Linked DNA regions of Homo sapiens: region 2 is linked to region 1. The links come from fine-mapping of genetic effects on gene expression. Tissue or cell type: T cells. Region 1 holds a variant in brackets; the other region holds the start of a gene. All regions are shown on one strand. Distances are from middle to middle.

Region 1 (8,116 bases):
TTGCCCCTTCTAGCTCCTGGTGGCTCCAGGCATTCCTTGACTTGAAGCTCTGTCACTGCAATCTCTGCCTCATCTTCTCATGGTCTTCTTCTCTGTCTCTCTGTGTTTCAAACCCCCCTCTCTTTTATTTTATAAGGATACCACCCATTGGATTTAGCCTCTACCTTCAATCAAGAATGATCTCATCCTGAGATCCTTAATTGCATCTGCAAAGAAGATATTTCCAAATAAGTTCACATCCACAGGTGCCAGGGATTAGGACTTGAACATACTCGTTGGTGGGGGAGGGTGTCACTATTCAACCACTACAGAGAAGCAAACAATATGTCCTTGGGATTCCTCTATTTCTAATTCCCAAATAGGCTTTTCTATGCCCTCTGGGGTCTCATTCCCAAGTCTTGCTCCTCCATCAATACAATTTTATCTCATTTATCTTTTTTTTTGAGATGGAGTCTTGCTCTGTTGCCCAGGCTGGAGTGCAGTGGTGCAATCGCGGCTCACTGCAACCTCCACCTCCCAGGGTCAAGTGATTCTCCTGCCTCAGCCTCCCCAGTAGTTGGGATTACAGGTGCATACCACCACGCCTGGCTATATATATATATATATATATATATATATATATATATATATACATATATATATTTTATATATATTTATATATATTTTATATATTATATATATTATATATATTTATATATTATATATATTTATATATAATATATATATTTATATATTATGTATATTTATATATTATATATATTTATATATTATGTATATTTATATATTATATATATTTTTATATATTATATATATTTATATATAATATATAAATATATATATTTATATATATATTATATATATTTATATATTTTATATATATTTATATATTATATATATTTATATATATTTTATATATATATTTTATATATATATATATTTTTTTTAGTAGAGATGGGGTTTCACCATGTTGGACAGGCTGGTCTCGTAATCCTGACCTCAAGTGATCCGCCCCCCCTTGGCCTCTCAAAGTGCTGGGATTACAGGCGTGAGCCACCATGCCCGGCCTCCTGGAGTGCTGGGATTACAGGCGTGAGCCACCGTGCCCAGCCTTTCACTTATCTTTATTGTATAGAATCTCTAGCACTGAAATGTGTCACTAACGCTACTCCTCAAGTCCTTCTATGTTTTCCACTTCTTTGGTGGCCTAGAAAACACTACAGCTAATACCATCTTGGATGGAGGTTTTCTTTCTTTTTTAAAAAGTATTGATTGATTGATTGATTGATTGATTGAGGCAGGGTCTTGCTTTGTCATCCAGGCTGGAGTGCAGTGGTGTGATCATGGCTCACTTCAGGCTTGAACTCCCCGGCTCAGGTGATCCTCCCACCTCAGCCTCTCAAGTAGTTGGGATCACAAGTGTGCACCAACACACCCGGCTAAGTTTTGTATTTTTTTTTGTAGAGATGAGGTTTCACCATGTTGCTCAGGCTGGTCTCAAACTCCTGGGCTCGAACGATCTACCCACCTCGGCCTCCCAAAGTGCTGGGATTACAGGCATGAGCCAGTGCACCCAGCCTATAGAGGTTTTCTTATTGGATGTGGTACCCTCCCTAGGAGGCATTTTGGAAGTTTGTGGGAGGTGTTTGCAGCCTTCTTAGGATGTGGAGTAAGAGAAAGGAGGCTAAATGTTCTGTGATGTGAAAAAAGGTCCTAAACAATGAAGGATTGTCCTGTATGAGTTTTCAAAGGTGAAAAACCTATTTATAACTATCTGATCCTAAAACCTAACATTGTTATTATTTTTTGCCAATCAACACAAAGTGGGTCTGTCCAGTTTTTTTTTTTTGTTTTTTTTTTTTGAGGCAGAGTCTCCCTGTGTCGCCCAGGCTGGAGTGCAGTGGCATGATCTTGGCTCACTGCAACCTCCGCCTCCCTGGTTCAAGTGATTCTCCTGCCTCAGCCTCCTGAGTCACTGGGATTCCAGGCACCTGCCACCACGCCCAGCTAATTTTTGTATTTTTAGTAAAGACGGGGTTTCACCACGTTGGCCAGACTGGTCTTGAACTCCTGACCTCAAGTGATCCACCCGTCTTGGCCTCCCAAAGTGCTGGGATTACAGGCATGAGCCACCACGCTCAGCCACTTTGGCCAGTTTTGATAAGTTCTGAAATCTGTAGAGATGAAACTACCATGCAGATGAAGGTGCTGGGTTCTAACTGGAACCAGGAGAGGCTCACAATTTTAGTAAATCCCCTCCTGGCATTTGAGCCACAGTGCTCCTGATGCTGCTGACATTTGTCCCTGCTGCGTTGACAGCAAATTTACATGTGAGTACAGCATTCGTGTTTTATGTCTTCTAGCATAGCGGTGCCTGAGAATTTACATCTTGAAATTCATATTGCTTTATTGCCAATTGTTTTTATTTTCATACTTCCTTTCTGCTTCAGTTTATCTCTCATGCTTGTATGATCCAATATGTATCGTGTAGATTTTTTTAAATTCCGTGTATTGGCAAGTTATAGTTTCTGTGGATTTCATTTCAGGGTAGAAAGGAGGCATTCAAAATATCTGTTATAAAAAGAGCAATAATATGGTGAAACCCCATGTCTACTAAAAATACAAAAATTAGCCTGGCGTGGGTGGCGGGTGCCTGCAAACCCAGCTACTTAGGAGGCTGAGGCAGGAGAATCGCTTGAACCTGCGAGGTGGAGGTTGCAGTGAGCAGAGATTGTGCCATTGCACTCCAGCCTGGGTGAGAAGAGTGAAACTCCATCTCAGCCGGGCGCGGTGGCTCACACCTGTAATCCCAGCACTTTGGGAGGCTGAGGCAGGTGGATCACGAGGTCAGGAGATCGGGACCATCCTGGCTAACACGATGATACCCCGTCTGTACTAAAAATACGAAAAATTAGCCAGGCAGGGTGGCGGGCACCTGTAGTCACAGCTACTCGGGAGGCTGAGGCAGGAGAACGGTGTGAACCCGGGAGGCGGAGCTTGCAGTGAGCGAAGATCGTGCTACTGTACTCCAGCCTGGGTGATAGAGCGAGACTCCGTCTCAAAAAAAAAAAAAAAAAAAAAAAGAGTGAAACTCCGTCTCAAAAAAATAAAATAAAATAAAAAGAGGGCAGTGAGGCTGAGGGGACCGGGCTCTGTCTAGAAGGAGGTAGCCCAATCCACACAGATGTAAACAAATGTTCACTTTCCTGAAACATCTGGCAGATCTGATGGCGGTTCACCAATCCCCAGTTCTTTATGCACAGGCAGGAATTCTAGTCTTAGACTTCGGGAAGGCCAGTGGGCTCAGAGTGGAGGCAATGGGTGTCGCTTCTTGGTGGAAGCCCTTATTTGCTGGGGTTCGCCTTCCTCTGTCCTCTGCATGATGGCTGGGCAAGCAGGGGTTGGCGTGGGTCATGTGTGGGCCCTCCCCTGGCAGCAGCTACCCTGGGGAACCTCCTGGACCCCCAGCGGACTTGATGTACACGAGAAAGAAGCCTGAGTTTTCAAGCCCCCGAGATGCCTGTGCTTTTTGTTGCTGCAACAAACAGGCTCTGAGACAACACTGGCAAGCAGGCAGCTGCCTTGGGTTACAGGGTCTGAGCATACAATTCTTCTCATATGACACTGACGAGTGATTCCACATGGGCCACCAGGGAGGGACCATGGCCTGGGACGTGACATTGCTTTAGCCAAGGGCAGTTCCTGGAGAACAATTTGTGGAGAAACTCCTGGTCGGGGGACGAGAGCCTCAGTGCTGTGGGGGTCTCCAGAGAGCCCTCCACAGCACCCCTTGCAGTTGGTGGTCCAAGGCTCTGACCCCAGCTCATGTGCCCTACAGCACCCAGTGCCAAAGGCTTTCCCGTGGCCTCACTGGAAGGATCAATGCGAGAGGACTGAGGGCCTCCCCAGTGGCGAGCCAGGGCCCGGCAGCTGGGCCAGAGAGATCAAAGGGGGACCATGCGGTTGATACACACAGGGCCAGGCTTTTCTTGAGCTTGCTGGGAGGGAAGCGCGGCAGCAGTGGAGACTAACGCAGGGAACACCTTTGGCATGTGCCGAAGACTAAGTGTGAGGGCTGGTTTAGGTCGTGGTAGATTTCTCTGGCTGCTTCCCCTTGAAGACAGTCCCCTCAGCAAAGCGACCTGCTGTTGAGGACGTCCACCTAGACTTTGTAGGAAGGAGCAATCAGAGGGCTCTGCTCTATTCCTTTCTCTGGCCGGAACCCTCAGCCTCTCCGTGGGTGTCCTGCAGCCTGGGATACCCCACCTGGCAGTGCCTCCCTTTAGACTCGCCCCTCTGGGACCGTCGGCTGCCTGGTTTCTGGAGTGTCACTGCAGGGAATGGCAACAGTCTCCTGGTGTCTGACCACCCCTCCCAAGCTCATGAAGACTGGGGAACTCCTACCTGGGCTGGGCCAGGGGTAGGTTAGACCTCTGAAGCAGGTGCTGTTTAGTATGATTTCTGAAGCATCACCCCTGGTGAGCAGTGGAACCCCAAAGGGTTCAGGCTGGGAAGGGAACCCCACAGGGAGGTCATGCCAGGGCAGTTGGCTTCAGACCGCTGATCAGGGTCCACAGGGCACCGAGGTGGCAGGGTGAGCAGAGAGCCCTTCCGCCGAGTTAGCAGGGATCCCAGCTGTGCCAGAGGACCTTGTAGGACCTGGGACGGGCCACCTCACCTGCACCACCAGGTCCCCTCACGCTTTGGAAACTGCCTACGTGTGATCACGATCACCAAAAGCTTCCGGAAATGCGTATCTCCTGTGGGCTGGGGAAGGCGTATGTGTGCATAACATTTGCTTCGGAAATTGTACAAAGTCCCGGGCCTCTGGTTTCTTGCCCAAGGAAATGGGAACAGTCCCTTTGATCGTGAACCTGAAGGTGGGATCAGAGGTCCTCACCAATGACTGAGACATGCCTGCATGCCAAGGATGTGAGGCCTTGACACAGCT[G/A]TTTGCTGAAATCAGAGATAGTCTCTGTTTTCTTGGGGGATAGGGAGGAAACCATCATCTCTGGTACAGGAGAATCCTGTCAAATGGAAGGGACCCTTTGCAGGCTAACAATGCTTCTCAGGTTACAAAACACAGTGCACAGTTGATATTGCCTCATTTCATCCTCTGGGACACCCTGGGGGATAAACAGCTTAGATTGTTCAATTCCCAGGACAGATGAAGTTCAGAGAGGCTGAGAGACCCGCCTCTGATCACACCACTAAGTGGTCAAGTTGGAATTTCTATTCTGAGTATTAGCTTTTTTTTTTTTTTGAGACGGAGTCTTGCTCTGTTGCCCAGGCTGGAGTGCAATTCACAATCTCAGCTCACGGCAACCTCCGCCTCCCAGGTTCAAACGATTCTTCTGTCTCAGCCTCCTGAGTAGCTGGGATTACAAGCATGCGCCACCATGCCCGGCTGGTCTCAAATTCCTGAACTCAAGTCATCCACCTGCCTCGGCCTCTCAAAATGCCGGGATTACAGGCATGAGTCACCATGCCCACCCCAAGTATTAGCATTATGAAGCAAGAACTATGGCTTTTTAGCTATTCCTTCTCCTTGCTCTAGGGATTGCAACATCTACCCTTAGTTTTTCACAGTCTACTCAGAGTGTTTTGTTTTGTTTTGTTTTGTTTTTTGTTTGTTTGAGATGGAGTCTCGCTCTTGTTGCCCAGGCTGGAGTGCAGTGGCGCGATCTCGGCTCATCACAATCTCCACCTCCTGGGTTCAAGCGATCCTCCTGCCTCAGCTTCCCAAATAGCTGGGATTACAGGCATCTACCACCGTACCTGGCTAATTTTGTATTTTTAGTAGAGACGGGGTTTCTCCATGTTGGTCAGGTTGGTCTCGAACTCTCGACCCCAGGTGATCCACCTCCCAAAGTGCTGGGATTACAGGCGTGAGCCACCGCGCCCAGCCCAGAGTTAGTATTAGAAATATAAACGTCACATAAAACATAGAAGCCTTGTGACCATATTTACCCAACCCCCCATGCTTCATGCTGCTGTTGTCTTGCATATTGCACCTACATACATTACAAACCCCAGGGTGATGTGGTAATTTTGGCTTTATACAGTCCTATGTATTTTCAATAAATTAAAAAAGGAAAAGTTATGCTGGGCATGGTGCCTCACCTCTGTACTTTGGGAAGCCGAGGTGGGTGGATTGCTTGAGCTCAGCCCAAGACCAGTGTAGGCACCATGGTAAAACCTCATCTCTACCAAATATACACAAAAGTTAACTGGGGCAGGTGACATGGCTCACGCCTGTCATCCCAGCACTTTGGGAGGCTGAGGCGGGTGGATTGCTTGAGCTCAGGAGTTCAAGACCAGCCTGGGCAACATAGCAAGACCCCCATCTCAATTAAATAAATAAATACATAAATAATAATAAAATCAGCTGTGCACGGTGGCATGTGTCTGTGGCCTGAGCTACTCAGGAGGCTGAGGTGGGAGGATCACCTGAGCCCGGGAGGCAGAGGTTTCAGTGAGCCAAGATTGCACCGCTGCACTCCAGCCTGGCCTTGTGGCTGCATCTCAAAAAAAAAAAGCCAGACCCTGTCCTAAAAAAAAAAAAAAAAAAAAGTAAAAAGAAAACGTTTGGCCGGGCGTGGTGGCTCACGCCCGTAATCCCAGCATTGGGAGGCCTAGGCAGGCGGATCACCCGAAGTCTGGAGTTTGAGACCAGCCTGCCCAACATGGTGAAACCCTGTCTCTACTAAAAATACAAAAATTAGCCGGGCGTGATGGCACGCACCTGTAATCCCAGCTACTCAGGAGGCTGAGGCAGGAGAATCACTTGAACCCAGGAGGCAGAGGTTGCAGTGAGCTGAGATCGTGTCACTGTACTCCAGCCTGGGCGACAGAGTGAGACTCCATCTGAAAAAAAAAAAAAAAGAAAAGAGAATGTTTTAATATTGATTGGGGTAATAGCTGCATAACTCTGTCATTGTACTAACGGCCACTGAATTGCGCACTCTAAATGGGCAAATCGTACGGTAGGTGGGTTATATCTTAACTGATCTATTCCTTGAAAAATAGCTCGTTGTGCTCGTCCTCTTGGTTAGCCTGGAAATGTTCTGAGAGCAAGCTGCCAATCCGTGTCAGGTACCACAGTGCTGACTGCAGAGCTGAGCCCAAGACCAGCTGCTTGGTAAATAGTCCTTGGTTGACTGATTGAGCAGAGGCCTCCCCAAAAAGGTTTTAATTGGTTTCATGTTTAAATTTTGCAATGAGGAATAAAAATCTGCCTCAGATGAGAATTTGGTTCTTCTCCTGTCCCTTCCTATACACAAGACTCCATAGAAACTGAGCAAAGCACCGAAATTTGTGTTCACCGGATCCCCAGAACATAACCGGATTTGGAATCAGGGTCTTTGCATGTGCCATTAGTTAAGATGAGGTCGTGCTGGATTAGGGTGGGTCCTAAATGCGATGACAGGTATCTTTATAAGAAGGCCATGTGAGGACATGCACTGAGGCCACGTGAAGGCAGAGGCAGAGACTGGAGTGACAGACACGCCACAAGCCCAGGAAGCCAGCCGCCCCCAGAAGCTGGAAGAGGTGGAAAGGACCCTCCTCTTTGGCCTCCAGAGGGAGCAAATCCCCCCCCCCCCCGCCCACCCCGTGTGAAGGGGCCTGGCCTCTCTGACCTCCTGGCCTCTCTGACCTCCCGGCCTCTCTGACTTCCCGCCTTTCCCCCCATGTCAACACGGGGGGTCGCTCCCTCCTGGGTCCGTCACATGCGGGAGCCCTGTCCTCCCTGTTGGGTTGCCCTGCTTAACTTATTCATCGGGATCCCAAACCATCTTGTGTATTTGTTTACTTGTCATGAGCTCCAGGAGAGCAGAGGCCTCTGGGTGCCTGGACTGGTCTGGCGCCGGGCGGGCCTCCGCAGGTGCTTGCGAGATGAGAGGCTCCCCAGAGGCTGGTGGGTTGAGGCGGCTCGCTGTCCGTCTCCCGGCGTGGGTTTGTTGCCCAGTGCTGACCAGTCACTCAGACACACAAAGAGCTCTTGGCCTGGGCCAGGGGAACAGAGGGCACTGTGTGCTGTGCCGATGCCGGCGTCTCTAGCCTCTGAATGCTGTCTGTGCACTTCAACAGATGAAGTTCTTTCCAACTGAAATGAAAC
Region 2 (8,116 bases), 30 kb after region 1:
TTGTTTCACTTGATTTTCCCAAGAATCCTGTGTAATAGGTGAACTAGTTCATTATTCCCACTTTCCTGCTGGGAAACGTGCAAAGAGCCACGTAATCCATACCACACTTGGCAGAACCTTCCAATCACATTGATTACTTGTGGTGAGGATAATTAGAAGTTAGCATATTTTCCTAAAATTTAATCTATTATTAATAGATTTTTTTTCTCTTCTGCACTTCAACTTGAAGGCAGCAGAGGGCGCCTGATCACACAAAAGATACACTCTAAAAGTCAGCGACAGATTAAAGATAATCCATGAAAGTTTCAACAATGTGAATTTTACTAAAATAGAGCCTTGTACTTAATCTTTTGACTATTTTAGGATCTGATCTCATTTTAGATGTTCTATTCCGTCTTTCTCAGTATGAGAATTTCAGTCTCACGTAAATCACCATGACACCTATAATCCAAGAGCCTTCTAATTTAGCTTCAAGCTTCTTTCAGATAATAAAAGTATTAAACCCCGCATCCACCAGATCCTCCTAAATCTTCAATAGGTCATACGCTCTCCCTGTCTCCGGCCTGAAGTGGGCACCACTGTAATGTACTGCAGCCAGATGTGCTGTGAATGAAGAGCCTTTTGGCTTCAAGTGCATTGCCTCAGGTTTACCCAGGATTTTTAGAAAAATATTAAAGGATTACGTATGTTCTTAAAGTCATAGTACACTAGAGGGGACAGAACTATTTCCCGAGGGCAATAGTGAGGATTTAGCCTTTTGTAGTTCGTCATGGAAGATAAACATGCCTGGATGCCCAGGCTGGGTTTCTGTGAAATTCTCCAGCTCCTTTCTGCTCAGCTCCTAACCGGTTTTTTTTTTCTACCACCACATAGGTTTCCTACAAGCAGTGCTGGAGACCATGGTGGTCTTCAACCAGTGCTATCTTTTCTTCTCATTATTTCCCCAAATTTCATTTTTCTTCTTAAAGAGCTAGGTTTATGGATAAGGCTTGGAGTGGGTTGGAAAATCATTCCTCCTCAGCTGCTCAGTGACTAGTCATTGATTGGATCTAAGGTAACTTTTTTTGTTTTTGAGACAGAGTTTCGCTTTTGCTGCCCAGGCTGGAGTGCAATGGCGTGATCTGGGCTCACCGCAACCTTTCCTCCCGGTTCAAGCAATTCTCCTACCTCAGCCTCCTGAGTAGCTGGGATTAAAGGTGCACACCACCACACCTGGCTAATTTTTTTGTATTTTTGTAGAGACGGGGTTTCACCATGTTGGCCAGGCTGGTTTTGAACTCCTGACCTCGTGATCTGCCCACCTTGGCCTCCCAAAGTGCTGGGATTACAGATGTGAGCCACTACGCCTGGCCGAGTTAACTTCTTCTTTTTTTTTTTTTTTTTGAGACGGAGTCTAGCTCTGTTGCCCAGGCTGGAGTGCAGTGGTTCAGTCTCGGCTCACTGCAACCTCTGTCTCCCAGGCTCAAGCCATTCTCCTGACTCAGCCTCCCGAGTAGCTGGGATTACAGGTGCGCACCACCATGCCTGTCTAATTTTGTATTTTTAGTGGAGATGGGGTTTCACCATGTTGATCAGGCTGGTCTCAAACTCCTGACCTCAGGTGATCTGCCTGCCTCTGCCTCTCAAAGTGCTAGGATTACAGGCGTGAGCCATCACACCTGGCTGGATCTAAGATAACATCTTTTTTTTTTTTTTTTTTTGAGATGGAGTCTTGCTTTGTCGCCCAGGCTGGAGTGCAGTGGTGCAATCTCCGCTCACTGCAACCTCTGCCGCCTAGGTTCAAATGATTCTTTTGCCTCAGCCTCCTGAATAGTTGGGACTACAGGTGGGTGCCACCACACCTGGCTAATTTTTTTTTTTTTTTTTGTATTTTTAGTGGAGACAGGGTTTCACCATATTGGCCAGGCTGGTCTTGAACTCCTGACCTCGTGATCAGCCCGCTTCAGCCTCCCAAAGTGCTGGGATTACAGGAATGAACCACCACGCCTGGCCTAAGAGAACTTTTAAAGGCTGACTCACACACAAAGTAATAAACTAGATTATTTCCTGATTTATGCTTTCCCTTTGCCAAATTTTGGCTTGTCCTTGTCCTTAATTTGCCTTATTCCTTGATTACCCATCCAAAGATGACATCTTCTAAGTAGTGATAAGCATTTTTACTCTGCTCTTTCAAATCATAACATTCCATGCACTGCAGATGATTTTGCCATTTCTTACGTAATTTGAGGCAAATCCTAGAGTACAATTTCCTAGCAGGCATTTGGATATTACCTATCTTTATTTCTCAGGCTCCACAAATTGAGTACCCTTTCAGGGTGCTATCATTAGCTCTAGCCTACCTATGAAGAAACAAAAGTCCTCCATGTTAGGACATTTGAGGACATGCCCTTAGTACCTAACAGTGTCTGGCACATTTTAAATGGGAAGGTGGAAGGGCCCCCCCATTTTTTTTTTTTTTTAAGATGGAATTTTGCTCTTTTGCCCAAGCTGGAGTGAAGTGGCTTGATCTCAGCTCATTGCAACCTCTGCCCCCTGGGTTCAAGCAATTCTCCTGCCTCAGCCTCCCAAGTAGCTGGGATTACAGGTGCCCACCACCACGCCTGGCTAATTTTTGTAGTTTTAGTAGAGACGGGGGTTTCACCATGTTGGCTAGGCTGGTCTCGAACTCCTGACCTCGTGATCCACTCACCTCGGCCTCCCAAAGTGCTGGGATTACAGGCGTGAGCCACCGCGCCCGGCAGGGACTGTCTTACTCAGGATCTGCAAAATCTTATAACTGTGTGAAATTTTTTTTCTGGGAAAAAAGCACTCATTTGTTTGGTCTGAGGGGAAAAAATGGGGCTAGCCCAAGAGTCGCCCACTTAGTTCTACCCAGGGCGAAGCAATGTGCCTTAACGGGGGGCACGTGCACCCCGGAAAACTCAAGAGAAAATGAGCCGGGCGTGGTGGGCTCCTGTGGTCCCAGCTACTCCAGAGGCGGAGGTTACAGCGAGCCGAGATCGCGCTACCGCACTCCAGCCTGGGCGACAGAGCAAGACCCTGCCTCAAAAAAATAGAAATAAAAAATAAAACTCAGAGGGCACGTCTCCTAGGACACGGGGACAGGCTAGGTGGGGGCACAGGGCGTGAGAATTGGCGAGCATGGCCGGGGTATGTCAGGCCGGGGCTGCCATCTTTTTTGTTTTTTGAAACAGGATCTCGCTCTGTCGCCCAGGTTGGGGTGCAGGGGCGCATTGCTGCCTGGAACTCCTTGACTCAAGCGATCTTCCCGCCTCACCTTCCCGAGGAGCTAGGACCACTGGGCGCGAGACACCACGCCCGGTTAATTTTTTTTTTTTTCTTCTGTAGCGACTGGGGGTGGGGGGTGGTGTCTCGCTTTGTTGCCCAGGCTGATCTCGAACTCCTGGACTCAAGCGATCCGCCCGCCAAGGCCTCCCAAAGCTCCAGGGTTACAGGCATGAGCCACCGCGCCCAGCCCGGGGCCGGTCATCTTTTCCGGGGCCTTATGCAGAGTCCGAGGCCCCCGAGCCCGCTGCCGAAGACGGAGCTCCAAGACCGAACCTCGTAAAGGGCCCAGCCGCACCTCTACCCGGAAGCGGCTCGAACTCGGGGCCGGAAGTGACTCCATTTCTGTGCGCCGAGCTCCGCCCCACGAGCACCTGTTTCCGAGCGGAGAGCGCGGGCCGTTTTCTTTCCTGGTGTCCCGTCGCGGCTTGGGACCCGGCAAGATGGGCAAGAAGGGCAAGAAGGAGAAGAAGGGCCGCGGCGCGGAGAAGACGGCCGCCAAGATGGAGAAGAAGGTGTCTAAGCGCTCGCGGAAGGAGGAGGTGAGCGGGTCAGACCGGGCTTAGCGGCCCGACGTCGCGGCCGTGCAGCCTCGGCCGACTCCCTGCGCCCCCCGGGGTTACGGGTCGGCCGTGGGAGCCGCGCCGGCCCTGCGGGAGAGCTGGAGGCCGTAGGAACTGCCCCGGCGCCGCGTCCGGGCAGCCCAGACGGGGCCCGCCCCCTCCTGAGTCTCCACGTGTGTCTGTCCGCTTCTCGGAGCTGCCCCCTTTAACGTGCTTGCTTTTCTTAGTGTGGTGTCACGGGCGTTTTTCTGCGTTTCCTCCCCCTCCTCCCTTCTCCCTCCACCCTCCCTCTGAAGGGAGGCTGGGTGGTGAGAAGAGGGAGGGGTTTGGCACAGGAAGACCTGAGGTTGAGCCGGGGGCTGCCTCTGCATGATGTGTGGTCTGGGAGTAAGACTCTTAACTTTTCTGAACCTTACTTTTCTTTCAAAAGAGGGCAAATAATCATCACAGCAGCCCTGAGCAGTGAGCAGCAGATGGTTAAGTGAAGAAGGCACTGGAGCCACGGGGTATCCCGTAGCAGCTGATGGCGGCCATCACGGTTGTCTCCTTCCCTCTGGTCCTCAGCCCGGGGTCTGCAGGAGGATCCGTCCTGACCTTGGGGTTGAGTGTTCTGCGGCTGCTGCTCATGGATTCCCTAACCGGGGCCAGTTTTATGGCCTGCCGTGCGCCAGGCACAGCTCCCTGGGCTTTACTCCTCACGAGCAGGTCAGTTCCGTAGCACTGGTATTCCCATTTGACAGGAAGACCAACAGGTGAACCATGAAGTGGTATGGAACTGGGATGTGACCAGATGTCCTGAATCAGGAGCTCTTGACCACAGTCCTTTGTCCCTTTTCTTCCTAAGTCATTGATCTCTCCATGTCCTCATCTCTTAAATAATGGAGTTGGACTTTTCCCTCACACTCCTCTTAGGCTCTTTCTTTTTTTTTTTTTTTTTTTTGACAGAGTCTTGCTCTGTCACCTAGGCTGGGCTGCAGTGGCATGACCTGCTGGCTAGGGTTGTGGCACAGGAAGTCAGTTCATCTGTGTGGTATCTTCAGAATGGTGCTTGGCAGAAAGTAAGCACTCAGTAACCAGCTGTTAGCTGCTTTCTGCTTTTTTTTTTTTTTTTTTTTTTTTTTTTTGAAGGAGTTTCACTCTTGTTGCCCAGGGTGGAGTGCAATGGTGCGATCTCAGCTCACTGCACCTCCGCCTCCCAGGTTCAAGTGGTTCTCCTGCCTCAGCCTCCCAAGTAGCTGAGATTACAGGCATGCACCACCACACCCAGCTAATTTTGTATTTTTAATAGAGACCGGGTTTCACCGTTTTGGTCAGGCTGGTCTGGGACTCCTGACCTCAGGTGATGCGCTCGCCTCGGCCTCCCAAAGTGCTGGGATTACAAGCCGTAAGCCACCTTGCCCCGCCAGTTACCTGTCATTTTTACTCATCTCCATGTCTCCCTCCAGTACCCAATACTAAGGTGATTGTAACAGTAGCTTCCCTTAAGAGAGAGAGCCTGTCAGGCCTGGGGTTTGTATGTTATCTGAATGAACCCTCAAAACAAACTTTTAAAATAAGTGGGCGTCTGATTAGGCTAGACCCACAGAGGATCATCTCTTTCTTAAATTCAGCTGTGTCTGTAATACAACCTAATCACAAGAGTGGTATCCCATTCTTTCACAGTCCTGGCAATTATTGGGGGAAGGATTGGGGACAGTTTGGAATTCTGCTCCCACAGAACTCATGTATCAGGTCACCTGGTTCGCACCTTCACTTAGTCCTGGCCTCTGCCTGTCTTTCCAGCTGTCTCCCTGGGCTCACTCCAGCCACAGTGTCTTTTAGTGTCTCAAACATGGCAAGTTGTGTCTGTGGTCTTACCTATACCCCAACCATACTCCGTCTGAGTCGTCTTTTCAGCATTCAGCTTATTGTCACTTTGGAGAGGCTGTCACTGGCTAGGCCACTGGCGTCACCCAGACCCTACCACCTTGCTCTCCTTCAGTCACCCAATGATGATGAGGTTCAGCCAAGGTCAAAGACCGCTCTAAGTAGCAGCAGCAAAGCTTTCGCGGTACATAGACGTTAGTATTTGAACTGTTTGTTTAACCTCGTTGAGCAAAAAAAGCAAGTTGAAAGAATATACAGTATGATACCATTTAATGACATTTTATTTTTTATTTTTTTTGAGATGGAGTCCTGCTCTGTCACCCAGAGCAAGTGTCGCAGTGGCATGATCTCAGCTCATTGCAACCTCTGCCTCCCAGGCTCAAGCAATTCTCCTGCCTCAGCCTCCCGAGTAGTTTGGGACTACAGGTGTGCGCCACTGTGGCCGGCTAATTTTTGTATTTTTTAGTAGAGACGGGGTTTCACCGTGTTGGTCAGGCTGGTCTCGAACTCCTGACCTCAAATTATCCACCTGCCTCGGCCTCCCAAAGTTCGGGGATTACAGGCGTGAGCCACTGTGCCCAGTCCATTTAATGACATTTAAAAATGTAAAACAATACTATATGTTGCTTAGGGATACACATGTGTAATAAAAGATTGAAGAAAAGCGTGAGACTAATAAGCATCGAGTTCCAGATAGTGGTTACTTGAGGGAATGTGTGGGTGGGTACATGTGGGTGACACTTTATTCCTTACCCTGGGAACCGTATACAGGAATGTCTTGGATAAAGTTCTGTTAACTTGTGTGTTTTAAATATTGCATCGTTTAGAATACTAAGCAGTGTACCCTGCTGACATTCACCCTGAGATGAGAGGTAGACTGAAGGAAGCACGAGGTGGGGCGTGGCAGGCTGAGGGAACCTGGCGTTTTCATTGAAGGAACGGAGAGGACGCTGGTGTATCTTGGAGAGTGAGGCCAGGTGGGAGGTGAGGTTGGAGAGGTGGGTGTGGGGGAGGGAAGATGGTCTGCAGGTGTGTGTAGTTGCAAGCAGGACACTGAAGGCTAGAAGGAACTTGAAATGCCAGGCTCGGGTGTGCATGGGAGTGTCTCGTAAATGTTGGGAAATGGGCACTGGGACTGAGGCGGGAACACTGGGTTCCAGTGCTGCCCTCTGTGCTGGCACATCAGTACCTTGAGTCACTCTCGATGGTAGTAAAAGTTGAGACCTTCTTACTTGGATAGACTGCAGCTGGTATTTGCTGAGCTCTTGCTGTGCAGGCAGTGTTTTAACTAGACACAAGTCTTGCTCTGGTGGAGCTCATATTTTATTATTTTGTTGGGGTGGAGGAAACAAATAAGCAAGAGAAATATATCAGACACTGCTCAGCAGACAGGAAGGCAGGCAGGCGTGACGGCCCAGGCCTGGGCTCTGAGAGGTGCTGAGGGTGTCTGCAGTGAAGTCACGATGGGCTTGTCTAAGTGGAAGTTCTTGTCAGACACTGCTCTGCAGACAGGAAGGCTGGCAGGTGCGACGGCTCGAGTCTGGGTTATGAGAGGTGCTGAGAGTGTCTGCAGTGAAGTCACAACGGGCTTGTCTAAGTGGAAGGTCTTGCAGAGGGAGCGTTAAGGGTGTGGAGATAATACTTGGTGCACACATCTACCCTTTAAGCAGACTGCCTTTGAGGTCAAGCTCTGGTTACTTTCGAATGTGTCAAACTCTGCATTTCAAACAGGCACAGTATGTTGCAATTCACAGATGTGACTGAGCCCAGTCGAATCACACTGATTGGAGGAAAGCTGAGCGGGCTGTGGCTCCGCGGCGGGTCCTGGGAATAAGTCTCACGTGTGCCTGCTTGCTTGCCCTAGGAAGACCTGGAAGCGCTCATAGCCCATTTCCAGACACTCGATGCCAAGAGGACTCAGACTGTGGAACTTCCGTGCCCCCCACCCTCACCAAGGTGAGCAAGTAGCATTTTTCATATTGTATGTTTCCTTTTCTTCTATACATTGAAAAACTGCTTTAAATAGCACCAGGTTTCGTAAATGACCAGGCACTTGGGACATTTTCATTATTAAAACCTGTTCTTGGTCACTTTCTGCTGAAGAACTGGAATGAGGCTGTAAGCTTTACTGTCATGGAACCTGGGAGCAGGGCCTACAGCACAGCTGCTGCCTCTGGGCTCCGGTGCCAACTTTGAAAGCTCCTCCACTGGTCGTGACGTGGGGATGAAAGTTTTGCCCCAGTGAGCTTTTCTTTGGTTCTTAAGGTATTTTAAAAGTGCGTACTGTAGGCAGAAAGCTGAAAATCACTGTGGCCTTTTGATGTGTTTGTAATGCTTTCAAATTCTCATGTGAAAAGTTTGTTAAACATAAATTGAGTATAAGCCATTTTAAATGGATTTGA

Evidence for each region. PIP is the estimated chance that this variant, and not a neighbour inherited with it, causes the effect.
Region 2: it holds the start of KLHDC4, and the variant in region 1 is fine-mapped to the expression of KLHDC4 in T cells (TOPMed, PIP 0.97).

What each region holds. Positions count from the first base shown.
Region 1 is chr16:87,791,344-87,799,459 of GRCh38, reverse strand. No RefSeq gene overlaps it. Among named protein-coding and RNA genes, the nearest start is that of KLHDC4, 29 kb to the right of the region's middle. The variant G/A (reference allele first, on the strand shown) is at 4,949.
Region 2 is chr16:87,761,503-87,769,618 of GRCh38, reverse strand. KLHDC4 (kelch domain containing 4) reads left to right here and starts at 3,633. Exons shown (of 12, transcript NM_017566.4): 1 at 3,633-3,827; 2 at 7,579-7,670. The coding sequence starts at 3,729. LOC105371399 (a long non-coding RNA gene) reads right to left here and starts at 3,578. Exons shown (of 3, transcript XR_933871.3): 1 at 3,278-3,578. It overlaps LOC102724467 (a long non-coding RNA gene), which reads left to right. Exons shown (of 4, transcript NR_120309.1): 4 at 3,195-3,288. RefSeq lists enhancers at 3,538-3,597, 3,678-3,737, 3,721-4,345, 7,178-7,247.